Linked DNA regions of Homo sapiens. The protein of the gene in region 2 purifies or fractionates together with the protein of the main gene of each other region. This does not show direct contact. Each region holds a gene or a part of one and is shown on either strand. Other genes may lie near its edges.

Evidence for each region.
Region 1: the proteins of DNASE1L1 (region 2) and PLXNA1 purify together in Homo sapiens (co-immunoprecipitation; 2 studies listed by BioGRID and IntAct, with this or other methods). This does not show direct contact.
Region 3: the proteins of DNASE1L1 (region 2) and TTC17 purify together in Homo sapiens (co-immunoprecipitation; 2 studies listed by BioGRID and IntAct, with this or other methods). This does not show direct contact.
Region 4: the proteins of DNASE1L1 (region 2) and SPCS2 purify together in Homo sapiens (affinity purification with mass spectrometry; 4 studies listed by BioGRID and IntAct, with this or other methods). This does not show direct contact.

The regions. Positions count from the first base shown.
Region 1 is NC_000003.12:126,986,098-126,993,120, reverse strand, and holds part of PLXNA1 (plexin-A1 precursor), read right to left. Parts: intron 4,601-7,023; 5' UTR 4,528-4,600; coding exon 3,334-4,527; intron 1,738-3,333; coding exon 1,555-1,737; intron 1-1,554. UniProt on the Homo sapiens protein: Coreceptor for SEMA3A, SEMA3C, SEMA3F and SEMA6D. Necessary for signaling by class 3 semaphorins and subsequent remodeling of the cytoskeleton. Plays a role in axon guidance, invasive growth and cell migration.
Region 2 is NC_000023.11:154,406,232-154,413,600, forward strand, and holds the start of DNASE1L1 (deoxyribonuclease-1-like 1 precursor), read right to left. Parts: upstream 3,024-7,369; 5' UTR 2,881-3,023; exon of another isoform or gene 2,327-2,880; intron 1-2,326. Other genes in the region: tafazzin, read left to right, coding at 5,613-5,775, 5,855-5,983, 6,976-7,021, 7,251-7,336.
Region 3 is NC_000011.10:43,354,337-43,361,940, forward strand, and holds the start of TTC17 (tetratricopeptide repeat protein 17 isoform 1 precursor), read left to right. Parts: upstream 1-4,583; 5' UTR 4,584-4,618; coding exon 4,619-4,777; intron 4,778-7,604. UniProt on the Homo sapiens protein: Plays a role in primary ciliogenesis by modulating actin polymerization.
Region 4 is NC_000011.10:74,966,253-74,973,275, reverse strand, and holds part of SPCS2 (signal peptidase complex subunit 2), read right to left. Parts: intron 3,712-7,023; coding exon 3,577-3,711; intron 1-3,576. UniProt on the Homo sapiens protein: Component of the signal peptidase complex (SPC) which catalyzes the cleavage of N-terminal signal sequences from nascent proteins as they are translocated into the lumen of the endoplasmic reticulum.

The DNA.
Region 1 (7,023 bases), on a different chromosome or scaffold from region 2:
AGCAAAGCTCTGACCCAAACGGTGCCCCTGGGGCACAAGAGGGTGAGTGCTGGGCAGCAGGAACAGGGTAGGGCTAGAGGAACCTGGTCACTGGCTGGGTAACAGGCTCTGGGGCGCCCCACAAAATGTCTCTAAGCTGCTGCACTGGGCTTCCACACAAGCACGGTCCTCTGTCTGGCAAAACCCACTCCAACACCCACCCCATGCGCTCGAGAGCCCTGTGTGCCTTCCAGTGTGAGGAGAGGGAGTGCAGGCTGAGAGGACGGGAGGGGCCTCGCACCAGAGCCACAGGGCGGTACCCCACATGGGGGCCAAGAGGGAAGTCACAGCAGAGGACCCAACTCAGGGGTCACAGGACTTTCCCCATCAGCTTCAGCCTCATAGCCACTATGAGCAGAACCAGCAGGACCCCAGGGCACCCCCACCCTGGGGGGCCTACAATCAGCAGCTGGGCCCCCACGGGCCCCAAGACCACCAGCACCCCCCGCCCCCAGCCCAGAGCCTGAACATCTGGCTTATTTCACAGAGGGAAGCTGAGGCTGCAGGGGATCCCCTCCCAGAGATCACAGAGCCAGGGAGGGGCAGGACTCCCCACCACTCCCAGGGCAACTACCATGGCAGAGATGGGAGGCCCCCTTCCTAACACTGGGCACCGGGCTGAGAGCTGCAAGCCCTGGCCAGCCCCCGGCCCAGCCCCACTCGCGGGCACACATGGGCTCAGGGGAGCTGCATCGGCACCAGCCTCTGGTGCCGGTTATGCACCCCAGGACCCACCACTGCCCACTGGGCCTCTGGGGTGTCCAAGTATCCCCACCCTTCAGTCTCTCCGGGAGCTTCCTCCACACCAGGCCAGCCTGGTGCCCACCCCAGCCCAGGCAGCTCCCCTCCACCCACACCCTCCAGGAAGCTCTGCACTGCCTCTGTCCAGCCCACTGTTCTGGGGAAGGAAAGGAGAACCCTGAAGACCAGACAGCCATCCCTGTAGCACCTAGCCCTCCCCCTGCCACCGTGGGGCCAGCCCAGGGCTGTGTGCTGGAGCTCCTCAAGCACCAGCCAAAGACAGGCAGGGGCACTACCCTTGCCCTGCCCTTGGCCCAGTAGAGGGGCTGGGGAGAGGCAGGGCCAAGGCCTCTGGCCCGGCAGAGTGCTGAGGCAGCAGACACTGGATCTCCTGGCTGGGGAGCAGGGCCCAGAGGGGAGGGGGCCGCGCAGGCCTGCCCTCACCACCCACACACAGCAGCCTCCCCAGGAGGTCAAGTGCCCTTGGAGAGCCAGCCCCCGCCTCAGCATCCCTGGGCCCCTGCACAGGCTCCTGCGTGGTCTCAAAGTGTCCTTGCTTAGTGGGCCTGGGGCCAGTCATGGGCAGAGGCACAGAGGGGAGTGGGGCCCTTCAAGGTCACTGGGCCTAGTGTAGGGCAACATTCCCCCTGCCCCCTGTACGCCAGATCTAGCCTCCCACAGCATACAGCAGCACTGGGCCTGCCACCTGGGACGGCCGCAAGCCTTTGTTCCTGCCCCAAGCCCCCTCCTCACCCCACCCCACCCAGGCCTGACCTTGCGGATGCGGCCACTTCGCGTGCCGGCGAATACCACAGTGCGGCCCCGATAGTCATAGGCAGCCACGGCGGTCAGGCCATCATCCTTGTCCACGAACAGGGGCGTCCCCTCAATGGTGACTGTGCCCCCCAGGGGCTGGTTGAAGTCCTGCCCGCAGAAGTCGTCATCGATCTGCAGGGGCTGTGGGAAGGGGCAGGGTGAGAGCCACTCCCCGGGCACCTTCTCCCGGAGGACTGGGCCTCCCTGGGCAGGGCTGGGAGTGCAGTTGTCTTTCTAGAGAGGTTGGGGGTAGCCCCCAGAGGAGAGGTGCAGACAGAGAGGGTTTAAGACAGGAGGGAGCAGATCACACCTGAAAGGCAGAGGGCGGGCTCCCAGCTAAGAGCACGAGAAAGCAATCAATAGCTTGAGGTTCCGGAGCAGCTGGGGGCCAGTGTGGAGGGGGCGCTGCTCCACCGCCAGGCCTAAGGAGAGGGCAGGGCAGGCAGGGAAGGGATGTGGGGAGAAGTGGGGCAGATGGTCCTTGTCTGCAGAGGGTTCATTGGCAGGGGCCAGGCTGCTCAGGAGGAAGGAGCAGGGGAGGCTGGGCCAGGGCTAGGCCACATGGAATGAACAGGTGGGAGGGGGCAGTGGGGACTGTCCCCAGGGATGAAAGAGCAGGCCCCAGCCTTGGGGCAGGGCACAAAGAGAGAGTGTGGTGGGGCTTCACCCAGGCTCTGCCCCTACAAGCCTCAGTGTCTCCATCTGTATGGTGCAGAGAAAACACGTTCCTTGAAAAGCCAAGGGGAGGGTGGACAACCGCATCTGCCAAGCACACATGGGCCCTGCCTCACACAGGCAGTGAGCGTGAGACGGAAGGACTGAGGGGCCCTTGCAGTCCCACTCTGCCCTGAGGACAAAACCAGCAACACCCTCAGGTCAGACATGGGAGACTACAGCCAGAGAGGGCGAGGCCTTCCCCTGCGATGGCCAGCGACCCCCAGCAGCAAGCCCAGAAGGCCTGGCCTCGGGGGTCCCAGGTCTGGGCCGAGTCCCAGCCCCTTCACTTTCCACCCTAAGCAAGGCCCGTGCCCTCTGAGCCTGCCCAGGAGTGTGAACAAGACACTCCCTGAAAGGCAGCGAGATAGAGGCCCCACCCCAGCTGTGCCTTCTGATGGGTGCTGGGGGCTGTGGCTCCCTGCAGTCAGGGTCACTTTCTCTGCAAGTTGTTAACTGTGGCCTGCACCAGGACACCATCAGCTCCCATTGCTGGGCAAAAGCAGAGGCCCAGCGGGCAGGTGCCACCAGGGTCATGTGGGGGACACAAGCGCTCCATGGAAATGGTGTCTGGGCTCACCTGATAGGCTCTGGCACCAGCCTCTCACTTGCTGTGTGACCCAGGGCAAGTTACCCCACCTCTCTGATCCTATAACCTCATTTGTAGGATGGGGACAAGATGGAGCAGGCAAGCACCAGGTGTAGGACCAGGCATGTGGCTGGCACTCTGTCCAGTGTCCCACAGGGGCTGTGGACTATGCCAGCAGGGCCTCGTCACCCCATCTTCTGAGGCACAAGACAGCATCATGGCTGGGAGCAGCCTTTGGGGCTAGCACCCTGGGTCCAAACCCACTCTCTGGGGGATGGAAAAGGGCAGCCCCACCTAGCTGAGCCATGGGGATGGCCAAGCCAAAAGCCAGGCCAGGCACACAGCAGGCACCACTGGGCGTGCATCTGACACCGATGCCGTCGTCCCTGGAGGGGATGGGGCCGCGGGAGGAGGGGCGCCCCTGCCCAACTCACCGAGTTGATGCAGCCCAGCTCCTTGTTGAGCAGCCACGGCAGGGAGAGCTTGCCCTCACCACGGTAGCAGGACTGGATGCGCTCCTTAATCTTCTCCTTGATGGCCCTGAGCGTGAACAGGCACAGTGCTGACTCCTTTGGTGGCTTCACGCGGTTCTTCTGGCCCTGGGCGAACACAGTGAACAGCACGTCCTCGTCCTCAGCCAGGCCCAGCTGGTGGGCCAGGGCACGGCCGGGCCGGCTCAGGTAGGCATCCTGCACCAGGCGGTACTCCACACCCGCCTGCTCGCAGCCAATGGGGAACTCAACGTACGAGTAGAATTTGGGGTCGTCCACACAGAGCCGCACGATCTTGGACGTGAAGAAGTGCTCGCCGGCGGCATCAGGCGAGGTCAGCTGTGTGTCTAGCTGCAGCGTGAGGTAGTAGACAAACTGCTCGCTGCGGAAGCTGTACACATAGTAGATGTCAAAGGCCGGGAACTTGGACAGCGTGTCCGAAGGGATCTTGAGCTGTGATGACACAAACTCATCCTGGTACACGAAGCCGAACATGTCGGCATCCTCCTCGTTGGCCATGAGCCGACGGCTGGACAGTGTGGGGAAGTACTCGGACTTGCCATCGATGGGTGTGCCCACGAAGAGCTTGGCCTGGCCCTGGCCCGGTGGCCCGGCAATGAGCACGCCCGCCATGCTGCCTGCCTCCTGCACGCTGGACAGGTAGTGCTCCTTACGGTGGTGTGGCTCACCCAGTTTGAAGAGATCGTCCAGACGCAGGAACTGGCAGATGCCCTGGGAGGCGCTGCCACAGGCCAGCAGGCGGTTAGCGGCATAGTCCAGCAGCAGCAGCTTGTTGACGTTGTCAGTACTGCCCAGGCCGTGGGGGCAGGACTGCACGCTGGGCGGCGGGTAGCACTTCTCGTTGTCCTCCACAGGGCCCGTGACGTGGGCCCGCAGCAGTGTCAGGTTCCCCGACAGCTTATAGATGCGGTTCACTGCGCCCACATACACCTCGCCTGTCTGCTCATGCACCACTAGGTGGGTGAGGCCCCAGTCGCTGGCCGAGAAGGTGCGGAAGGGGGGCTGTGAACCCCCGCCTGCCCTGGGCAAGCCTGCCTCAGCCCACATGCCCGGCAGCAGCAGCAGCAACAGCAGCAGCAGCAGGAGCACCTGCAGGCTCCGCGGTGGCAGCGGCATGGCAGGCTGGGGCCTTGGGCCTCGGTGCTCTGGTCCTGCTGGGGTGAGCATCATGGTGCCAGGAGCTTCAGCCCTGGGGAAGGGGCAGAAGAGGGCATGTGAATGCAGGCATGGCCCATCCCATGATATTATGATCTCCCAGTGTGAGCCCTTCCAGTGCTGGGCGTGCCCACTGCACCTCCAGGAGGCAGAACCTGACCCACCAGGAGGAGCCAGGGGCAAACTGGGCACCTCCCTGGCCTGAGGCCCTATAAGCTGTGGGGTGCACCAGGTATCCCCAGGACACCTGGCAAGAGGTCACTCCGTTGGCACCTGTGCCCTGCCATCACTGGCGGAGGCCAGGAACAGGAAGGCAGGTGACAAGGGCCTGAGGTGTGGAATGGGACCCCAGCTGACACCAACATCTGACACCAACCTGGAGAGCAGCCTTCACCCAGAGCCTCCCTATGCACTGGGGAGCAGGACCCTCCCCACAGCTCTGTACTCCCAGGGTGGGCACCAGCTCCCTGCCTGAGGCTGGTGGGGACATACTCCACCACCGTCCCCTACAGAAGCTTGACATAGATGGGCTTTAGTGCTCACTCCCACCTCCACAGCCCTGCCTCTCCCCCGAACACGCCCTGACAGCCCACAGCAGAGGCACCACGGAGGACATGGAGGCCCAGGCCACACAGGCAGCAGTTCTCACTGTGGATAGGTGGCAGCCTGGGCTGCTCTCGGTGGGACCCCAAGCCCCATGCTGGATAAACCTTGAGACCTGCAGTCCAGAAGCCAGGCAATGTGTCCCACCCACATCCCCACCCCAGCCGACGGGTGCCCCGCCACACGGCCCCTTCCCAGGCTCCCTGGCCCACCAGCCCTGACTCTCAGCACTCTATCCAAGCCACCAGTCCTGCTCCCAGCCTCACACCCAACTCCAAGGAAAGAGGAATTCCTCCACAGGGAAGGCTGGCAGGTGCTCCCTGCACTCCACCCCTCCACAGTGACCCCTTCCCAGCCTCAGCACCCCATACCCACCCAGACCTGTGTGGCCCCCTCCTGCCTTGCTCCACATCGGGCCCTCACTTCCTGGTCACACTCACTACCAAGGTCCATTGACTCCACCCCAAACTCCACAAAATGCCCACCCCTCCTTCCTGGATTGCCAGGGTACTCGGCTCCCTCCACCCACAACCACCTACAGCCAGGTCCCTATGCAGAGGCTAAGGCCACTCTTCTGACCTGCACACGAGGTCAGCGCTGCCCAGATCCTGGCGGGAGTCCCCATATCCTGTCCTGGCCTCCACTGCCTCTGGAAAAGTCTCACCACACCCTGCCTAGCAACTGGCAGCCAAGCACTGGGCTAAATCTAGACCCTGTTACTCTGTAGGCAGATGACTCTGATGGGGACACTCCCTTTTCCTAGCCTCAGTTTCCCCATTTGCAAAAGGGGCATGAAAGCTCTTTTCTCATGGATGAAAGAGGAAAGGGCACACCTGCCCACAAGGCATAGTCAGCAGTGCCACCCCCTTGGTTGTCAGTAGGGCCTGCTGCCCTGGATGTGCCTGATGTGCTGGGGCCTCTCACCCACTCCTGGCTGGAGCCGGCTACAGCAAGGCTGAGTCCTGAGTCTTGAGTTCAAGCCTCAGCCAGCCAGTTTGCACAGACCATCCCAGACACCCCTTGTATGGTCTGGCCCCATTTTACAGATGGGGAAGCTGAGGCCTGAAGATGGATGCCTTCTCCAAGTCTACCAGGGAGCTGGGCACAGTCCCATCAGCCTCTGTGCCTGGTGCCCACATGCAGTGTGGGGCTGCCTGCCCCTCCCCCAGGCCTCTGTGCCCCTGTCTCCACTCCCCGCCCTGCTCAGTCACCCTGTTCTCATCTGCAGCACAGGACTCGTGAAGGGTCTCTATTACTTATTGCTCCCATTCTCCCGGCCAGAATGGCTGCCCTGTGAGAGCAGGGCCTGGCTCTGGGTGGTTGCCACTGCATCCCCAAGCCAAGCCAGGGACCCAGGAAGACTCAATAAATCCCCGTGAGTGAGCGAATGAATGAAGGGTATGCGGAGGGCCAGCCAGGTCTGGGTGCGGCAGCCCCCCATGCTTCTTCACTCCTGTTTCACTCCCCACACACTCCCTGCCCAGTGTGTGCACAGCACACACCCACTGCTCAGGTGGGGAAACCGAGGCTCTCAGAAGCAAAGAGCTTTGGCTGGAATCCCAGAGCAGGAACTGCAGGGTGCTCCTAGCAGGCTGCCAGCTGCCTTTGCCGGACAGCGCCCCAAGAACAGCAGGGGAGGAGTCCCCACTCCCGCCCCCGCCTCAGAGCTCAAGGAAGACCCGGGAGCCAGAAAACAGGCTCCTCACAGTGGCAGTGGGGCCGGGGCTGGGAGCTGAGCACATGTGAACTCCAAAGAAAACATGAATCACTCACCGTTTATCAGTTCAAAGCAGGCCTGCAATTACCAGGGGCTGGGCTCTCCCCTCCTCTGGGATAATTATACACGTCTTAATG
Region 2 (7,369 bases):
AATGCTGGGATTACAGGCGTGAGCCACCGCACCCGGCTGTAGAATTTCTTTCCTTTTCATGGCTGAATCATATTCCATTGTCTGGGCATCTGGGTAGACCACATTTTGTTCATTCATTCATTCATCCATCCATCTGGTTTTTTTTTTTTTTTTTTGAGACGGAGTTTCGCTCTTGCTGCCCGGGCTGGAGTGCAATGGTGCGATCTCGGCTTACTGCAACCTCTGCCTCCCAGGTTCAAGCGATTCTCCTGCCTCAGCCTCCCAAATAGCTGGGACTACAGGCACGCTCCACCACGCCCAGCTAATTTTGTATTTTTAGTAGAGATGGGGTTTCTTCATGTTGGTCAGGCTGGTCTCGAACTCCTGACCTCAGGTGAACTGCCCACCTTGGCCTCCCAAAGTGCTGGGATTACAGGTGTGAGCCACCGTGTCCTTTTTTTTTTTTTTTTTTTTTTTTAAATAGAGACAAGGTCTCACTATGTTGCCCAGGCTGGTCTTGAACTCCTGGGCTCAAGCAATTCTCCTGCCTCAGCCTGCTAAAGTGCTGGGATTGCAGGAATGAGCCCTGGTGCCCCAGCCTCATGCATCTCTTGACCTCGTGATCTGCCCGCCTCGGCCTCTCAAAGTGCTGGGATTACAGGCGTGAGCCAGAGCGCCCAGCCCCTGCTTTCAGTTCTTTTGGGTATATACCCAGAAGTGGAATTGCTGGATCATATGGTAGTTCTAGTTTTAATTTTCTGAGGAAGTGTCATATTGGTCTCCATGGTGACTGCACCATTTTACGTTCTCGCCAACAGTGCACAAGCGGTCAAGCTTATTCTTTTATTGTTTATTTATTTGGGACAAAGTCTTGCTCTGTCGCCCAGACTGGAGTGCAATGGTGCCATCACAGCTCACTGCAGCCTCCTGAATTCTATGTTTCCCAGGCTGGTCTCAAACTGCTGGACTCAAGTGATCTTCCTACCTCAGCCTCCCAAAGTGCTGGGATTTTTTTTTTTTTTTTTTTTTTTTTTTTTTTTTTTTTTGAGACAGAGTCTCACTCTGTCGCCCAGACTGGAGAGCAGTGGCGTGATCTCGGCTTACTGCAACCTCAGCCTCCTGGGTTCAAGCAACTCCCTGCCTCAGCCTCCCGAGTAGCTGGGATTACAGGCACCCACCACCACGCCCAGCTAATTTTTATATTTTTTAGTAGAGACAGGGTTTCACCATCTTGGCCAGGATGGTCTCGAACTCCTGACTTCAGGTGATCAGCCGGCCTTGGCCTCCCAAAGTGCTGGGATTACAGGTGTGAGCCACTGCGCCCAGCCAGTGCTGGGATATTATAGGCCTGACCCACTGCGCCTGGCCTAGTCTACCTTTTTTTTTTTTTTTTTTTTTTTTTTTGAGATGGAGTCTTGCTCTGTCACCAGGCTGGAGTGCAGTGGCGTGATCTTGGCTCACTGCAACCTCTGCCTTCCGGGTTCAAGTGATTCTCCTGCCTCAGCCTCCTGAGTAGTTGGGGCTACAGGCGTGAGCCACCGCGCCCGGCCCCCCCCCTTTTTTTTTTTTTTTTTTTTGATAGTCTCATTCTGTTGCTCAGGCTGGAGGGCAGTAATGTGATCTCAGCTCACTGCAACCTCCACCTTCCAGGCTCAAGTGATGCTCTCACCTCAGCCTTCCGAGTAGATGGGACTACAGGTGCATGCTGCCACACCAAGCTAATTTTTTTTTTCTTTTTTTGAGATGGAGTCTCACTCTGTCTCCCAGGCTGGAGTGCAGTGGCTTGATCTCAGTTCACTGCAACCTCCGTCTCCCAGGCTCAAGAGATTATCCTGCCTCAGCCTCCCAAGTAGCTAGGATTACAGGCACGTGCCACCACACCCGGCTAATTTTTGTACTTTTAGTAGAGACAGGGTTTCACCATGTTGGCCAGGCTGGTCTCAAACTCCTGACCTCAAGTAATCCTCCCACCTCAGCCTCCCAAAGTGCTGGAATTACAGGTGTGAGCCACCGCGCCCGGCTACCAAGCTAATTTTTAAAATTTGTTTGGAGAGATGGGGTTTCACCATGTTGTTCCAAGACCCCAGTGCTTTTCGCCTCCATTAGCAACTACAGGAACATCTTCGTTCATCTCTGTCTCCCCACTTGTGAGATGTTCTCTTTAAGATAAACTCCCGGCAGTGAAGGGTGTGTGCATTTTAAAAGGTCTCAGATATGGCCAAATCATCCCCATTGCAACCTGTGATGGGGACTCTTTCCCATGCCCCTGCCACCACTGGGGAGCCCTTCTTGTTCATCTCACCAGCTGGAGCCCCCCTCTCTCAGTTTATCTTTGTCTCACACTCACCTGACCTTGCAGGGCTCGGCTCCTTGCTCCACGCCCTGTCCATGTGGCTTTTGCATCCTGAGGCATGAGTTCCTCTGCTCTGTCTGCCTGCTTTTCTCTATCAACCTGTCACCTTCCCTTCGGGCTCACTTCCTACCTCTCTGAGGCTCTGTCCGTCTCTGTCTCACTTTCCCTCTCGTCTCTGGTTTCCCTTCTCTGTCTCTCTGTTGCGGTGTCTCTCTCCTGGCTGGGTTTGATGTCTGTTTCTCCCTGACCACCTGCTCTGTCACTCATGCTAGTTTGGGTTCCCTACCCTGGTGCCTATTCTGGGATATACATGGGTATGTGGGCAGCCCTGGGCTGGCACATGCAGCCTTGGAGGCTCTGGCGTCAGGGACCCCCATGAGGGCTACCAGTAAGAACCAGAGAGAGCGACGGTTCCTGGCTTCAGCCCCAAACCCTGGCTGTCAATATCAGCCTTGGTGGGAGCCCTAGGCTTCCCTCTCCCTCTCAAACCCTCCCCAGGCAGAAGGCAACTTCCTCCCTTCTTCCGTCTCCCCAGGGGGCTCCCATACCTGCTCAGACCAGCTTGTCACCAAGTCTGCCTCATCCTTAAGTGGATCGCGATACCCCAGAAGAGCAGCTCCTGCCTGAATAGGGCTAGGAGGGGAAAAAAAAGAGGAAGAGGCTGTGTTCCTGAGCCACCCGGCCAGGAAGGGCCTGGCTGGGCCGGACGCCCCACCCTTGCCAACAGGCAGGCCCGCCCCGTCTCCGCCTCGCCGCCAACAAGGAGGACCAGCACCAGGCCTGGGAACTGCTGACCTGCCCGCCCACCTTCCCACCCAGACCCCGCCTTCCCGGGCCAGCGGGACATGACAGACCTGTGAGTCACTCAAGCCTGGGGCAAGGAGGGGCTGGTGCCTGAGTGAGACCCCGAGCTTCGCTCGCCAGGCCCGTCGCTCAGCTCCCGGTCTGGGTCCCCAGTCAGCAGTTGCTGGGGAAGGCGCAGGAGCTGGAAGTCATGCCTGATGCCACGAGACCGGGCACCCCAAGGGCGTGAGTCTTCTGTCCCTGTTGTTGGGTTCTGAGTCCCAGTGTGGCTGCACACTTCTGAGTTAGGGGTGTTTGATGCAAGCGCTCTGGAGACCCAAAGAGAGGGACAGTCCACACATGATCTGGCCACAGTCGTGAAGTCAAGGGAGGACTGAGGATCTGCCCCAGAGAGGAGGAGACCCAGGGAGCTGGCAGTCCAACGTCCTGGGGGTCCTGCAGTAATGCTGTTGGGACAAATGAGGTGCTCGGACAGGGTCTGTGAGCAGGAGGTGGGGCTGAATCCACTCAGCTTCTCATGGGATGGCTGTAGCTAATGGATTCGACGTGGTAATAGAAGGCTGGACAAATTTTAAAAAATCAATAAATTATGGGCTGGGCGTGGTGGCTCATGCCTGTAATCCCAGCACTTTGGGAGGCTGAGGCGGGTGGATACGAGGTCAGGCGTTCAAGACCAGCCTGGCCAACATAATGAAACCCGTTTCTACTAAAAATACAAAAAATTAGCCCGGCGTGGTGGTGGGCGCCTGTAATCCCAGCTACTCAGGAGGCTGAGGCAGGAGAATTGCTTGAGCCTGGAAGGCGGAGCTTGCAGTGAGCCGAGATCACACCACTGCACTCGCACTCCAGCCCGGGCGACAGTGCGAGACTCCATCTCAAAAAAAAAAATCAATAAATTATGGTTTAAAAATAAAAAACAGGCCAGGTAGGATGACTCACACTTTGGGAGGAGAGGCAGACAGATCACCTGAGGCCGGGAGTTCGAGACCAGCTTGACCAACATGAAGAAACCCAGCCTCTACTAAAAATACAAAAATTAGCCAGGTGTGGTGGCTTGCGCCTGTAATCCCAGCTACTCAGGAGGCTGAGACAGAAGAATCGCTTGAACCTGGGAGGCAGAGGTTGCAATGAGCTGAGATCTCGTCACTGCACTCCAGCCTGGGCAACAGAGCAAGACTCTGTCTCAAAAATAAAAATAAATAAAAATAAAAATAAAAAACTGCCGGGTGCGGTGGCCCATGCCTGTAATCCTAGCACTTTGGGAGGCTGAGGTGGGTGGACTGCCTGAGCTCAGGAGTTCGAGACCAACCTGGGCAACATGGTGAAACCCCATCTCTACTAAAATACAAAAAAAAAAAAAAATTAGCCGGGCGTGGCGACCTGCGCCTGTAGTCCCAGCTACTCAGGAGGCTGAGGCAGGAGAATAGCTTGAACCCGGGAGGCGGAGGTTGCAGTGAGCCGAGATTGTGCCACTGCACTCCAGTCTGGCGACAGAGCGAGACTCCTAAAAAAATAATAATAAATAAATAAATATAAAATAAAAATAAAAAACTGGCTGCTTAATGCATAGGGGGCTTTCTTTCCGGGTCATGAATATGTTTCAGAACTAGAGGTAGTAGCTGACATTGTGACTGTATCAGATGGTATAAAATACTGTTTCTTGTATTACATATGATACACAATATGTTTGTATATATTGCTGTATATATTGTATATTTTGCCATACAGTAGATTATACATTGCTACATACACATAGTATCATGTAGTACTGTAACTATGTCAAATTGTATATGTGGCTGGGCGGGGTGGCTCACGGCTGTCATCCCAACACTTTGGGAGGCCGAGGCGGGTGGATCAGAGTGTGATGGCGGGCGCCTGTGGTCCCAGCTACTCGGGAGGCTGAGGCAGGAGAATCGCTTGAGTCTGGGAGATCGAGGCTGCAGTGAGCCATGATCCCATCACTGCACTCCAGCCTGGGTCTGGCTGGACCCTGTGTCAAACAAAAAACAGAAACACTAGAGAGACAAAAGGCGAGCGCAGGAGGCTGCCAGGAAGCGGGAGCCCCACGGGGTGACGGCCACTTCCCGCCGCCCCGGGGCTGGCCTCGCTGCCGTCAAGCGGCCCGTGCGCGCTTTGCGACAGTCGGTCGGGCTGGGCACCGGCGCAGGTTCGCTTTCCGGCGGTTGCACCGGGCCGGGGTGCCAGCGCCCGCCTTCCCGTTTCCTCCCGTTCCGCAGCGCGCCCACGGCCTGTGACCCCGGCGACCGCTCCCCAGTGACGAGAGAGCGGGGCCGGGCGCTGCTCCGGCCTGACCTGCGAAGGGACCTCGGTCCAGTCCCCTGTTGCGCCGCGCCCCCGTCCGTCCGTGCGCGGGCCAGTCAGGGGCCAGTGTCTCGAGCGGTCGAGGTCGCAGACCTAGAGGCGCCCCACAGGCCGGCCCGGGGCGCTGGGAGCGCCGGCCGCGGGCCGGGTGGGGATGCCTCTGCACGTGAAGTGGCCGTTCCCCGCGGTGCCGCCGCTCACCTGGACCCTGGCCAGCAGCGTCGTCATGGGCTTGGTGGGCACCTACAGCTGCTTCTGGACCAGTGAGTGGGCCCAGGCCGAGGCAGGCCCGCCCGGGTACCCATGCCCGGCCGGAGGTGGGACTTAGGGTGGGGGACGCCGCGGCCCCGACCTAGCGGGCGAGCCCGGAGCGCCTGACTTCTCCTTCCCCGCCAGAGTACATGAACCACCTGACCGTGCACAACAGGGAGGTGCTGTACGAGCTCATCGAGAAGCGAGGCCCGGCCACGCCCCTCATCACCGTGTCCAATCACCAGTCCTGCATGGACGACCCTCATCTCTGGGGTACCCGGGCCAGTGTGCTGGGCAGGGGGAGGAAAGGCGAGGATTCGGGACGGGCCCAGCCTCGTCAGAACAAACCCCTTCTCGCTGCCTTTTCATGGAGCCCTGGCACTCCGGTTTCCGGGCGTTCTGCCCCAGGGCTGAGACTTGGATTTGTGGCTCCTGCAGCATCCCTGAGGGAGCATGATTTGGAGAGGGCCTTGGGCATGGAGCAGGACCAAGGAACGGCCACAGGGCATATCTTACAGCTCCTTTAACGTCAGGCCTCCAGAACCCTCTGTTCTCTAAACCATCCAGGGCCCCACAGTCTTGGGAAAAATTTGGGGGTTGGACATAGGATATCCTGTGAGGAAGTTCTGGGCCAGGGACTGGAAGCCCAGTGTCCTGGCTTCAGGTTTGCCCCTGGCTGGGCGTGTACCGTTCAGCCCTATTTGGGAGCCTGGTTGCCACACCTAGAGGTTCCTGCTCTGCTGACTTCACAGGAAGTTGCTTGGCTCTGGTAACCAGATGGCCGGGTGGAGGGGTGCCTGGGGCTTCCACTCCTGAACAGAGAGCTTAACTGTCCTAGAGTTCATGGGGAGCCACCTAGCCACACTGGAGCCCTTCAGAGCTCACCCTGGCTGCTGGGTGGAGAAAGGCCTATAGATGTCACAGGTGGATCCTGGGAGGCCAGGAAGGAGGACTTGGAGCCATCCACTAGCCTAGACTGGGCTGGTTGCAGTGACAGTACAGGGAGAAGTATAGAAGAATGGGCATTGTCCAAGTATGTTGGGGAGGTAGGCAGTCCAGGTGCAGTGATTAGTAAGATGTGGAGGGTGGGGGAGAGGGAGGAGCCAGGGAGAACTGAATGATCTGGCCTAAGGGTCTGAAAGATGCCACTTTGGGCTGTAGGGAAATGGTAGTGCTGCTGTCCCTCATTCCCTGAGATGGGGTGAAGGAAGGGCACTCCCTGGGGATATGGGAAGTTGGGGCATGAAGCCTTTCCTGTCCTCTAGGGATCCTGAAACTCCGCCACATCTGGAACCTGAAGTTGATGCGTTGGTGAGGAGGAATGGGCCCCTCGAAGTGGGCCGGGCCGGCCCCACCTGCCTCTGCCCAGATTTGCCCTCCTCCTGCTCTGCCCAGGAGGTGGCGTCCAGCAGTCCAGGCAGGGCATGGGGTGGGGCCCCGCAGGCCCTCCCCTGTGCCTCCCTTCTGCATGCTGATGCTGGGGGCAGGGTGGTGGAGCGGGGTGCAGGGGGCAGGACTAATTGCATCTGTCCCTGCTTAGGACCCCTGCAGCTGCAGACATCTGCTTCACCAAGGAGCTACACTCCCACTTCTTCAGCTTGGGCAAGTGTGTGCCTGTGTGCCGAGGTGAGCTGCTCCTCCAGCGAGTGCAGGGAGGCA
Region 3 (7,604 bases), on a different chromosome or scaffold from region 2:
CATTCTATCAACAGAATGAATTCTAATTCATAACTTCAAGAATTCTATGATTTATAGTAATAGTAAATAAAAGACCTATTTGCTAAAATATGTTGAAAGACTAAATTACATGCAGTTAGGGACTTGCCTATCATTCGTTGAACTAACAATTGAATCACAATTTGAGATATCAGCAATTTTGTCAACTGCCATCCTGTATTTCTATAAATTTCATCGAAGAGGAAAAGTATAATGAAAAAAGAAACATCAGATCTTAGAACAACAGAATAAAAGAACGGTGACAAGTGATCTGGATGTAGAAAATTAGTAGGAACAATTTTATTTAAGTTTTTTGTTTTATTCACACAAAATGGGAATGCTACATTTGGGGGAGCTAAAAAACTGAGTCAACAAACTATTTTGCACAGAAGTTCCAAGGAAGATAAAAATGTTAGTATAGGAAATGCTTCCTGCCCTCAGTTGCTAGTGTAGGTAATTATAGAATTGCAAGATGACAGGTCCCTGGATGGCCTTGGCCATGCCAGCTCTTCCCCCTCTTGCTTGCAATTTTCAGGCAGAATGTACTGAGAATGCAACATCCTGAGATAAGGAGGAAGCTTCCAGAACAACCTGGGCTGCGTCCTCATTTTTCCTAAAACAGGATGTTCTGCAACACTTGTACTCAGCAATCTCAGTTACACCCAGGGTATAAAACCCAAAGTGTTTTTGGAGTCCCTCATCTGTGCTGCAACATGGGGTATGTGCAGATGAGGCTCCATCTGCCCTAAGCAGCTTTCCTGAGCCATGGGATCAGCTAACCATGGATCCTCCATTTCTGTGTATCTTTGCTGCCTATTTGTAAAAAATTTGCTTTGCCTGACTTACTGTTTGAGTGTTCTGCCTCACCAGATTAGAACTAAGAACTATTGCAAGAACCACTCAAGAGTTTGGCTGTTCAAAGTTTATAAAATAATATCACAAAGCAGCATAGTATTGTCATATTACTGACAGAATTCAGAGGTGGCAAACAAGTTGACAGACATTTTTGCAGGCTAGGATTTCAACTGTATCTTAAATAGATTTGAGAAAGCAGCATGAGGAAAGGATTTTAGGCAGGGAACAGGAGCAAAAGTATGTCTAAATTAGTCTGTGATACTTAAAACAGTTCAGTGAAAGACTAGAAGAATGGTACTTGGCAGTCAAGATCTGTGGTAGGCAAAATTCTAAGATGATACCCAATGGTCCTTGCCCGCATAAAATCTCCCCTACGTATATTAAAACATCATGTTGTACACTAAATATATACAATTTTGTCCATTTCACCTTAATAGAGTAGAAAAGGGGGAAATTTCCTAACTTGACTATGTGGGTAAAACATGAATACGATATCACTCCTGTGATCATAGGTTTGGATGTGGTTAGGGCCGCCAAAACTCATGTTGAAATTTGGTACCCAATGTGGCAGTGTTGGGAGATGGGGCCTAGTGGAAGGTTTCTGGGTCATGGGGGTGGATCTGTCATGAACAGATTAATGCCCTCACGGTGGTGGGGGGGGAGGTGAGTTCTTGCTCTCTCAGGAATGAATTAGTTCTCGAGTGTGGGTTGTTAAAAGAGTTTGGCTTTCTTGATTTGTCTCTCTTGCTGCTTCTCTCAACATGTGATCTCTATGCACACCCACTCCCCTTCTGCTTTCCTCCCTAAGTGGAAGCAGCGTGAGGCCCTTACCAGATGCGGCTGCCCAATCTTGGACTTTTCAGCCACCAGAATCATAAGCCAATTAAACCTCTTTTCTTTATGAATTGCCCAGCTTTAGGTATTCTGTTATAACAACACAAAATGGACTAAGATAATGTTATATGGCAAACGAAATTTTTGCAGATGGCATTAAAGTTACTAATCAGTTGAATAAAAAGGGATATTATTCAGATAGACCTTATCAACTCACATGAGCCCTTTAAGTCTAGGCTTAGAGATAGAGGAATTCAAGAGATTTCAGCAGTGGAAATATTCTGCTTGCCTTCAAGGAATAACTGCCATTGTGAGAGCCACATGGCAGAAAACTGTGGGTAGCCTCAATGTTAATGGCCACAATCAGCAGCCAGTAAGAAAATGGAGCCCTCAGTCCTACATTGGCAATAAATTGAATTCTGCCAAGGACTTGAAGAATGAGCTTGACTGAGGAACCCCAAGCCTCAGATGAGATTGCAGCCTTGATATGAGCCTTGTGACACTGAGCAGAGAACTCAGTCACACCACAGCAGAAGACTTTTGCCCCAAGGAAACTGTCAGATAATGTGTTAAGCTAAGTTTGTGGCAATTGTTACACAGCATTAGAAAACTAATACAGGATCCCAAAAGATAAGAGTTATCATCTACAGAAAATAGGTGGTATAATAAAGCTATAGAAGCTATAATTCCACCCCTTTAGAGGTTAACTTGTGAAGGTCAAAGAAATTGCTGATAGCAAAATATGTGATGCTGGGGCCTTTCTCAAATTCCTCACTAACATTCATTCATTCTCAGGCTCTCAGATCTAGAGTCAGGTGGATCTGAGTCCAAACCTGAGCTCTACCACTTAGCAATATGATCTTGGCCAACTTACTTAACTAGCCAGAGCTTGGTAAGTTGTGACGATTAATAGGAACTATGCATGTACAGGACCCAGTACGTATTAAACACTCAAGAAATGTTAGATGATGATGATGTCAGCTTTATACACAAGAAATAGGGTTGACCTCTATGCCCCAAAAATAAGATGCTGAGACAAAAGGGATTCCATCATTTGCCACTTCTCTATTTTAAAATTCTGAAACACTCCCTATTGCCTATGTCTAAACTCCAAGAAACTCTTAAAACATGCCACTGACTTCACCTTTTCGTTTCTTGAGACGGATTCTCGCTCTGTCACTTAGGCTGGAGTGCAGTGGTGTGATCTCGGCTCACTGCAATCCCCGCCTCCCGTGTTCAAGCAATTCTCTGCCTCAGCCTCCCAAGTAGCTGGAATTACAGGTGCCCGCCACCATGCCCGGCTGATTTTTGTATTTTTAGTAGAGGCGGGGTTTCACCATCTTGGCCAGGCCAGTCTTGAACTCCTGACCTCAGTGATCCATCCACCTCGGCCTCCCAAAGTGCTGGGATTACAGGCGTGAGCCACCGCGCCCGGCCAACTTCACCTTTTCACTTATTATTCTGCCTGAACCAGCACCTGAGCTCCAAACCTTTTTTTCACCTGGTTGGTTGCTCTCTCCTGTACATATGCATTCATACACCCCCATTATCCTGTATTTTAATTGTTAACCTGCCAATAATATCTCACTATATTGCACACTGCCCAATGGTTACATTTCCATACCCAGAGACTATCAGAGTACCAGGCAAAAAGCAAATAAGCCATATATTTTTAATGAAATGAATGTTCAGTCTTCAGGCCTTTAAGAAAAGCTGTTCCTGGAATGAAGAAAAAAAAAACACCAATGCTGTGGTTGTTTCTACATTTCTATAGCGTGGTGTTTAAACACTTAGCAACTGCTCTCCTGCATACACTTGTGTAGAGAAGTGGTTAAACAATATTCTCATCCTTCTTTTCCCAAGGAGAAAACCAAAAGCATACCAACCTTAAATAACACACACAGAGGGCAATCTTGAAAGACCTAAAATGACATATCTAGCAAGAAGCTGGCAGCCAAGCTTGACGCCTGCCTGCCTGCCTGTTGGTTCACTAGAAGAAAGTGGTTCTCAAACTTTAATATGTATACCAGTCACCTGAGGCTATTGTTAAAATGTAGTCTGATTCAGCAGGTTGCGGGGGAGAGGGAGAAGAGCCGAGAATGTGCAGGTCTAAAAAGCTCCCAGGTGATGCCAATGTTTCTGGTCTCCAGACCTAGACCTCTAGCTTAGACCTGTGCTGACCAGTACGTTAGCCACATGCGGGTATTAAGCCCCTGAAATATGACTAGATAAGCTGTCAGTGTAACATGCCGATTTCCAAGACTTAGTTAAAAAAAAAAAAACTAAACTATCTCAATGATTTGTACAGACCACATTGAATTAATATTTTGTGTACTTTGAGTTAAATAAAATGTACTAGTAGGGTTACTTCCCTCTATATTTTACATTCCACACGTGGCTCGCATTATAGTGCTACTGGACAGCGGTGCCCTAAACTAACAACCGTCTCCATTCTGAAGCTTCCACTATTGTGAGACTTTAAGAATAAAAGCAACACCTCTCTTCCCATAGGTGGTTCGAAAGCACACCTTTTGTTCCCCAACTATCTACCAGAAATAAAACGAAAAAACAAAGATTTAAAAAACAATAAAATTGAGTCCTTTCACTTCTGCTTAAGCGCCACCTAAGCCACTGCTTTTGTCTCCCTCCGGTTCCCACGCTCCGAGATCGTATCACCCACAGAAAAACAATAACTAAAAAGCGGTCTCCATCCCTGAAGCCAAGCTGGGAGAGTAGCCGAAGGTCGCGCTTCCTGGCCGCCAAAACCGAGGTGGAGGAAACTTGGTAGTCAGCGAGCTACGCCCTCTCGGCTCCTCCTCCTGCTCCTCCTCCAGGGCCGACCTCTTCAAGATGGCGGGCGCCGGAGACTAGCTTCCGCTTCCGGTGTGAGCGGCCCGGCCGGGGGGGCAAGATGGCGGCGGCAGTAGGGGTTCGTGGCCGGTACGAGCTGCCGCCTTGCTCCGGCCCAGGCTGGCTCCTCAGCCTTTCCGCCTTGCTGAGTGTGGCGGCACGAGGGGCCTTCGCCACCACGCACTGGGTCGTCACGGAGGACGGGAAAATCCAGCAGCAGGTAGCGGCCGGGGCGTCCCTCTTCTCCCGTGCCCGCCCTCGCCCCGGGGGGATTACCCTGCTTGGCCCCTGGCTGTTGGGCTCCGCGCGGCCCCGCCCCCAGCCTACCCTCACAGGGAGGTGGCACCGCGACCTCGGACTCCCTGCATTCGGACCAGGCAGGCACTTCCCGCTCCCCACTTGTCTCCTGGTCCTCGTTTGGCCCCCTAGAAGTTCTCACCCTTCCACCTCGCGGGCCGCGCGCCGCGTGGGGAAGAGTCGCCCAGCTGCGGGAGACGGGCCCTACGGACCTTTTTTTAGCTCGGGGTTTAGAAATCACAGATTTCAGGATTCCTGCCTTTGGTGCCTCTCGGGTTCACGCGTCACCGGCCCTCCCCGAGGAAATAGAAAGCAGGTGGCAGCTCCAGGGTGTGCGCGAGTCCCATGGTATGACAGCTTCTGGACCCCTAGCCTGTGGACCATTCGTGCTGCTCCCCTAGTCTCGTCTACCACATGGTGGATTTCGTTTCTGGTTGTGTTGGTTTCAGCTTGTACCGTTACTCAGGTCAGCAGTGGCTCATTAGAAACAACATAGAAACACTCCCCTTCAGAAGGAATGCTTGAAGATGCCGCTGGTGGCGTTGCCTGCATCTTTTCAGCTGTTACTGCCCTCGTTTCCCAGTGCACTTTGCTTTGTTTCTTTACCTAGTTCTTGTGACCCAGCCTCGCATGGAGGATATGCGATTTCCTGGATTCTTGTATGCCTGAACTAATTCCTCAGAGGCGAGACTGCTTTTCTTATATAACTTTATGATTGCCTGCGTTTTGTAAATGCTGCTGATGCCTAACGAGTGCGTGTGTGTGTTCCGCTACAGAATATTGGTAAACTTACTGACTTCGAACACTTGAGGACAATCTTGAAGTGTCTAGCAAACATTTAGAAAGTGAATTGTGTGCCCCATGCAATTTAGCCCACTGATCTAAAACGTTTTAACTAGTGTGGTGGGAAATTACTGGTCCTTTGGATTGTGTGTAATGAATCATGATAGGAACACATTCCAACGTTTAAGGTGAGGTTTAGATTTAGATTTGCCGTGTAATGTAATTGCAAATTCTATCTCAAGTAAGTTAAGTATAACTAAAAATCCGCCTAGGTATTCATGAGTGGTTTTCAGCATATCTAAGAAAAGACCGTGTTCCTATTGGGTAACGTTTTCTATATGACATACATAAAGAACAGTTTCCTTTTCATTGCCATACTATCTGAGACTTTAAATATATGTGTATGTGTTTCAGAAACCCAAGAAAACACTGTAAGACCATATGTGAGTGCTGGTTGCTTCCACCCTTCTTTTGTTTCTTGATAGTGGTTTTCCCTGAGGTCTCTATGAAGACGTGGAATTAAGTCACTCCTGCTGCATTTTGGGGAGCCTTTCTCCTGTTGGCTCTTCTGCAATATTGTTTTTGGCCACAGCTATTTATACTCTATGACATTGACTTCTCCTTCCCATTTTGGTGTCCTACCACTCAGCTGAAAAAGTAGCCCATCTAAAAAGTGAAAGCTGGTAGAAATGTTTTATGTATATACTTAACATTGCAATGGGAAAGTAGAGTCTGATTTTTTTTTTTTTTTTAACAAATTCCTTCTTTTTGCACTTTGGATACATATGTATTAATGGGGGAAGGCAGGGGTTACTGGAAACTTGCCTCAGAGAAGCAGGGAAGAGCTGAAGAATCTTTTGGATCTCTGCCAAGTCACTGCTGAGCTAAGTAATTAGGCTTAAAGTTTAAAAAGCAAGATTTCTCTATTACATGACTTTTTAAGTGATCCTTTTCATTGAATTTTCCAATACTTTGCTATACATAACATTTACAATGTTATGTTCAGGCAGCCACAAGATTTTATGCCAGAAGAAATAAGGTTGGTGTCTGCAGTGTAACAATAAGAGGCCAGGGGAGGAAAGTTGGATTTAATCTGAAGAAAAGGCACCACATATAAATAAAGTAAAAGAATTGGGTGCTGTGGTGAGCTGCCGAGTTCCACTCTGATAGCTGATTGTGCATGACCCATGCTTCCCTTCCTGGCCATAATTTGTATGCAGGTAGAATCCAAACTATCAATTTAGATCGTGATTAATTATAATATTTGTATATACTGTACTTAAGGACTTGAAAGATCACATTAGTGTATGAAATCCATATATATTGCAGATTTGTACATTCAGAAACATAATTAAAAGCTTAGTATATACAGATGCTCCTCAGCTTATGAAGGGGTTATGTGCTGATAAACTCATTGTAAGTCGAAAATACTGTAAGTCAAAAATGCATTTAATGTACCTACCAAACATTGTAGCTTAGCCTAACCTACCTTAAACGTGCTCACAATACTTACATTAGCCAAATTTGGGCAAAATCATCTAACAGCATCTTTTACAATAAAGTATCAAAATACCTCATGTAATTCATGAATACTTCACTGAAAGTGAAAAACAGAATGGTTATATGGGCACTCAGTACAGTTGCTACCAAATGCATGTCACTTTTGCAGCATTGTAAAGTCAAGAAATTATAAGTTGAACCATCGAAAGGTGGGGACCATCTGTATACTTTGTCCTGACATACCAAATTCTTGCTGCTTATTCTTGGTTACAATATTTGAATGAGAGCATAAGTGTGATTTCAGTTTTAAAGTGACCTACTACCAGGCAAAGGGCTAAGGGCTAACTGGATTAACAGCTTTTAGAAAATTAGAGTGGTACATACCTTTTGAGAACCTTTAATATTAAACACACCCAGATTAGATATATGGGTCATTGTTTTCCACAGTGATCATAAAGAAGTACTTA
Region 4 (7,023 bases), on a different chromosome or scaffold from region 2:
CCGCAAAGAAGAGGCATAGAAGTGGCACAATGTGATGACATGCATTCAAAGGGGGGATTTTAGGGAAGAGGACGCATTGGAAGCTGCAAAGGAGAGACCCATCTCTACCTGTAGTACCGGAGTAATGAAGGCTGTGAGAGAAACATCAGCCACCACTTGCAGTCTGCAGTGGAAATATGTCCTCAGAGGTTATGGTCAGGTTTCACTTAGGGTAAGAAAGAGAAGGGATGTTCCCCTTCCTGTGTCCATGTGATCTCATTGTTCAATTCCCACCTATGAGTGAGAATATGCGATGTTTGGTTTTTTGTTCTTGCGGTAGTTTACTGAGAATGATATATCCCTTGGGGAAAATATTGCCTAAGTATGCAGGAAAAAAAAAAATATATATATATATATAAAACATTAATAAGAGAGATTAGATTGATTTATAGCTATGCTATAAATGAAATGAGATAGATTTTATATTGTCTTATAACCTTATATGGTAAATGTTCATATTACAAAGTTAAATAAAAGTTTCAGTGGATCCAATTTGTTGTTTAAAAAAAAAAAAAAGAGAAGGGAATGTTCATAGAGATGGCTAGGTTATAGGGGACTTTGTGGATGGCTGACAATGACTGGGCTGCAGGCAAAGACTAATTAGGAGGTCAAGGCTGCAGCCCAGCCCAGATGAATGTCAATCATTCACATAACAAAACATGCCACGCCAGGCCCTGGGCTGGGTCTGGTTACCAAGGGGTGAGTGAGAAAGTCCCACCTGGGCTTAGGTTTCTACTGTATAGTGAATGGTAAAGGAGCTCACACTTTGGAGGAGGGGGCGGGCCCAGGAGGAGACACAGATATTAAATAATTATAGCTCCATGTGGTAACTAACAGAGGTAAGCATAAATGCTTTTAAGAATAACTAGGATGGGCTGGGCGTGGTGGCTCACACCTGTAATCCCACCACTTTGGGAGGCCAAGGCTAGGCGATCACTTGAGGTCACGAGTTCAAGTCCAGCCTGGCCAACATGGTGAAACCCCATCTCTACAAAAAATACAAAAATTAGCCGGGTGTGGTCGTGGGTCCGTAATCCCAGCTACTCAGGAGGCTGAGGCAGGAGAATCACTTGAAGCCGGATGAGGAGGTTGCAGTGAGCCAAGATCGCGTCATTGCGCTCCAGCCTGGGTGACAAGAGTGAAACTCCATCTCAAAAAAAAAAAGAATAACTAGGACCACCTAATTTAGACTAAGGCATGTTAAGGAAGACTAAGGTATGTCAGGGAAGGCTTCTTGGAAGTAGGAGTGAGCCAGGTTACAGAAAGATAGCTAAGCCAGAGAGAAGAATATGTTTAAAGGTACGGGGTCACTGGAAACTTGGATAACTTAGCATATTGCAAATTCCATAATATTGCCAGAGTAAGAGAATGTATTTTGAGAGGGGCATAAAAGAAAGCTGGAGATGTCACTAGGGGATGAATGCTGTAATACTTCATATGCTGAAGGAGTTTAGACTGTATAATGAATTTGCTGGGGAGTGACAAAATCACTTTTTGCGAGAGAGTCACATAGCTTGTGTTGTCTGCACGTGGCAACTAGTAGTCTGTGAAACCTTTCATTGCCATTTTCACATCACATGACCTGGCAGTGGGAATAAGACATCAGAATCAGCCACTGTTAAGCTACTAAATCAGTCGGTGAGGTGGGGGAGGGAGAAGACATCAGCAGAAAGCCGGGAAGAGAGCAAGAACATTCACATTCCACTCCACCAACAATACGGCAGTTGGTAAAAATCAGCAGGAAACGTGAAAAAAATCAGAACCCTTGTACACTGCTAGTGAGATTGTAAAATAGGGCAGCCACTTTGGACAACAGTCTGGCAGTTCATCAAACAAAGAGAGTTAGCATACCATACAAGTCTTCTCCCAGGTGTATTACCCAAGAGAAATGAAAACATGTCTACCTAAAAACATGTACACAAATATGTATAGCAACATTATTCATAATAGCCAAAAAGTAGAAACAACCCAAATGTCTGTCAACAAATGGATAAACAAAATGGAATGTTACTTGACCATAGAAAGGAATGAAGTACTGATACATGCTACAACATGAACGAACCTTGTGTGCAGTATACATAGGAAGTAATTGCACTAAGTGAAAGAACCCAGTTATAAAAGACCACATATTGTATGATTCCATTCATATGAAATGTCCATAAAAGAGAACAGAGAAAGTAGACTGGTGGTTGCCCAGGGCTCAGGCAAGTGGGAGGATAGGGAAGTGATTAGCTAGAGTACAGAGGTTTTTTTTTTGAGGTGATGAAAATGCTCTAAAATTGACTGTGATAATGGTTGCAAATATCTGTAAATACTACTAGGTACTTTTGAACTGTACACTTTAAATGGGTGAACTGTATGTATGGTAGGTGAATTATATAAAAGTTCTTAAAAAATACAAAAGTCAGAATAAAAATAATGAAATTATAATGCCGCTAGGTTTTAGAATTCTGCAACTCAGCTTCAGTGGCCTGGTAGAGGATGCAGATTATGATGGCTGAGGCCAAAGGGCAGCTAGAAGCCCTGTCAGGAGATAAGCAAGAACTCAGCTGCAACAACAGAATGAAGGTCTGCTTCCCTTTCTCATAGGCGCTTCTACAAGTTGGCAATGAGACAGTCTGTATGGCACAGATGCTACACTTAACTTCATATATAAATAATTGTACCTATAATTTGTGCGGCTATTATGCACCAGTTAAGTATAATAGGTTTTTAAGATAGTGACTACGAGTATGAATTCTGGTTTCAAACTTGGGCTGGAATTCCTGCTCTACCACTTTTGGGCTATATGATACTGGAAGAGTTGATTTAAACTTTGGGCCTGTATTCTTATCTATAAAATGAGTGTTCTAAAACTTAATGAGATAATGCATTTAGCAGAATACCCAACATACAGTAAATGTTCAATAAACATTTGCTATTATTATAATTGGTATTTCATCTTCCCAGAAACTCTAGGCATCATTTTTGACCCCACTAAACCTCAGATAATTTATATGATTTACCCAAAGTTATACAGCTAGAAAGAAACTGAATTGGAACATGAACCTAGTTCTTGGTACCTACAAAACACATGTGTGTCAGCTGCACAAAGTTATACCTGACACTGGTCAGAAACAGACTCTAGATTGTGCTTTTTTTGAGTTGCCCAGTGCACTGCTCCAGATATTCTTGATTGTATTCGTGGAGAGAAGACAGGATCATAGAAGACACAGAAGCTAATGGAATTCTTCAAAGATAACTGATCTCACATCTTTGGCCTTTATACTTTTGTATGCTTAATCGTCTCTGTTAACTGGCCACAGGAAAAAGTACCTTCTCCCACAGTTTATCCTCAGAGCATTTCTGTGATAACGCAATCTCAGAACTATAGGGCTAGGACAAACCTTCTAGATCATCCATACTCCTTTCTTCATTTTATATGACTAGCCCTATGATCCACATAGAGTAGGCACATAATAAGTCTTCTGTTGATAATGACAACATGCCAGGGCAAATCCAACACCAGGATTTAAAAATCTGTGAGGATAGTCATACCTTTTAAGACTGGAGGACAGCTGCCAAATATCATCAGGATCCATTCCTGTAGGATCTTTCCTGTGGGCCACGAGAAAGATGCTCTTCTCCTTATATGAGGTATAAATGGTCAGAATCCCCATCATCACAAAATAGGTTCAAATAAAGTTAAGGGGAAAATACCCAAACATAAAAGAGAAGTAACACAAATTGACAAGCAACAGATATAAAAACTTTCATAATGATAGTCCTAAAGAAGACAGCTTTGTCTTGCTGCCAAAACACTGAAAATTTAGCTATTTCATTTTCATCCTTATGTTTATATACCAAGAGAAGCAAGGCTCTCTCTGGTTAATTCTGCAAACACCTCAGAAAGGAAGAAAAGAAAAAGATACAGAGCATAAACTAGCTCTCATCTTTATGTTCAAAGACAACATGTATAATAAGATACCTAGTTTGTCAAGACTTTGTTATAATAGTGCTTATTTCTTTATAAAAAACAACGAATAGTCCCAGTGGACTTGACCATGTTCAACTGATTTTAAGGGTTATTAAGAGAAGAAAAGTGACCCAAATAGTTTACTATAAGAGAGTATGTCAAATAGTACTACGATTACTTCCTATATGCATATAGACTTATTATTATATTGTTTTTGACAGTATTAAGTACCATAGTTAATAAGCACTTATAGTTTGCCAAAAACTGGCATAAGAGCTTTGTGTATACTGTGCCATTTAAATTTCATAAACAAGGCTGGGCACGATGGCTCACACCTTTAATACCAGCACTCTGGGAGGCCGAGGCAGGTGGATTGCTTGAGACCTGGAGTTTGAAACCAGCCTGGCCAACAAGGAACAATGGGAGACCCCATTTCTACTAAAAATACAAAAATTAAGGCTAGGCGTGGTGGCTCACACCTGTAATCCCAGCACTTTGGGAGGCTGAGGTGGGCAGATCACTTGAGGTCAGGAGTTCGAGATGAGCCTGGCCAACATGGTGAAACCCCATGTCTCTACCAAAAATACAAAAATTAGCTGGGCATGGTGGTACATGCCTGTAGTCCTGCTACTCAGGAGGCTGAGGCATGAGAATGGCTTGAACCCAGGAAGCAGAGGTTGCAGGGTTGCAGTGAGCCGAGATCGTGCCACTGTGCTCCAGCCTGTGTGACACAGCAAGACTCTGTCTCAAAAAAAAAAAAAAACAAAAAAAACCCACAAAAACCAAAAAAAAATTAGCTGGATGTAGTGGTGCAGGCCCGTAATCCCAGCTACTTGTGTGGCTGAGGCAGGAGAATCACTTGAACCTGGGAGGCAGAGGCTATAGTGAGGCAAGATCGTGCCACTGCACTCCAGCCTGGGCAACAGAGTGAGACCCTGTATCAAAAAATAAAAATAAAATAAATAAAATAAAAATAAATTTCATGAACAGTGCTCGCTTCGGCAGCACATATACTAAAATTAGAACGATACAGAGGTTAGCATGGCCCTAGCACAAGGATGACAGGCAAATTCATGAAGCATTCCATTAAAGAAGAGTTAAAAAATAGATAAATTTCATGAACAGGAAAGGCAGGAAAATATAGTACAAAGTATATGGACTTTAGAGTAGAGATAATCCTAGATTTAAATCTTGGCCTTTAATCAGTATGATTGTAACAAATAACTTCCTTCCCCAAGTCTTAGTATCCTTACCTTTAAAATTGGGATAATACTGATGTTTTAGAATTATCATGAGATTTAGAGATGAAGGATATATGCAGTCTAGGATACAGAAGACTTTTTTTTTTGAGACAGGGTCTCACTCTGTCACCCAGGCTAGAGTACAGTGGCATGATCTCAGCTCACTGCAGCCTCAACATCCCAGGCTCAAGCAATCCTCCCATCTCAGCTTCCTCAGTAGCTGGGATTATAGGTGTGTGCCACTACACCCAGCTAATTTATTTTTTATTTTATCTAATTAATTTATTTATTTTGAGACAGAGTCTTGCTCTATCGCCCAGGCTGGAGTGCAGTAGCAGATCTCGGCTCACTGTGACTTCCGCCCCCTGGATTCAAGTGATTCTTGTGCCTCAGCCTCCCAACTATCTGGGACTACAGGCATGCGCCACCATGCCCAGCTAATTTTTGTATTTTTAGTAGTGACAGATTTCTCCAAGTTGCTCAGGCTGGCCTTGAACTCTTGGGCTCAAGTGATTCGCCCGCCTTGGCCTCTCAAAGTGTTGGGATTACAGGCATGAGCCACGATGCCCAGCAACAGAAGACATTTATAATGGTAGTCCCTACATTATAAATAAAACTGACATGACAAAAATAAGACCTTGTTTTATTAAACAAATATAACCAAACAAATGAATTACCATCAAGGTAGTTCTCTTGGGAGGCCAGATATTTGTAATAATGTTGCTATCATTTTCAAATCTCTTTGGAATTCCCCTGGGAACTGTCTCTAGAACCTATGGAATATTATTCTTCTGAACTGCCTTAATAGTGAAAAATTCATACTGGGATGATTAATCTGATTACTGAAAGGAGTCAAGGATCACCTGGTGCCACTTCTGGGGGAAATGTGGGGCAATCTGGATAATACAATTTTTGACTAGGATCTGCTTTATCAGAGGTTTGCTAACTGCCTCTGAAGATAAATCCCCAACATGAAGTTTTAAAACATATTTCAGGTTGGCTGGGCACAGTGGCTTATGCCTGTAATCCCAGCACTTTGGGAGGATTGCTTGGGCCCAGGAGTTTTGAGACCAGCCTAGGCAACGTAGTAGGACCTTGTCTCTGTAAAAAATTTAAAAATTAGGCAGACATGGTGGCATGTGCCCGTCTACTCAGGAGGTTGAGGTGGGAGAATTGCTCGAGCCAGGAGGCTGACGCTGCAGTGAGTCATGATCACACCACTGTACTTCAGCCTGGGTGACACGGTAAGACCCTGTCTCAAAAAAAAGAAAACAAAACAAAATTTAGGTAGTGGTAACATTGTTTAAAAAAGTAAACTACCAACCAAAATTACCTATTTTAATAGTGAAGTATAATTAAGTTCTTTATATTCAACTTCTTGAGAAAAAAAATCACGCTGGGTAGGCAACGACCATGATCTTACATTTATCATAAAAAAGAGGGGAAAGGAAATGATTATGTATCAAATACAATATAAAATCTCTCATTTAATCTTTATGATAATTCTGAATGCTACCCATATTTATAAATGAGTGGTATTCAAATCATCTCAAAAATAAGTAAATTTTCATTAGCACAAGATCACAGATACCTTGGATTTCAAACCCATATTCTCTAGCTCCAGAATAAGTTCTTAATTCCACTGTAATACAAGCCACACTTGTATCTCATGCTCAGTACTTTCCAGTTCAGCTCCTCAGCTTCAAGTAAACTTAATACAGATCTGAGTCTCCAAAATCAGATCCTTTCCTAATATCCTAGAATGAGTGGCTTGAAGCAGCCACGTCT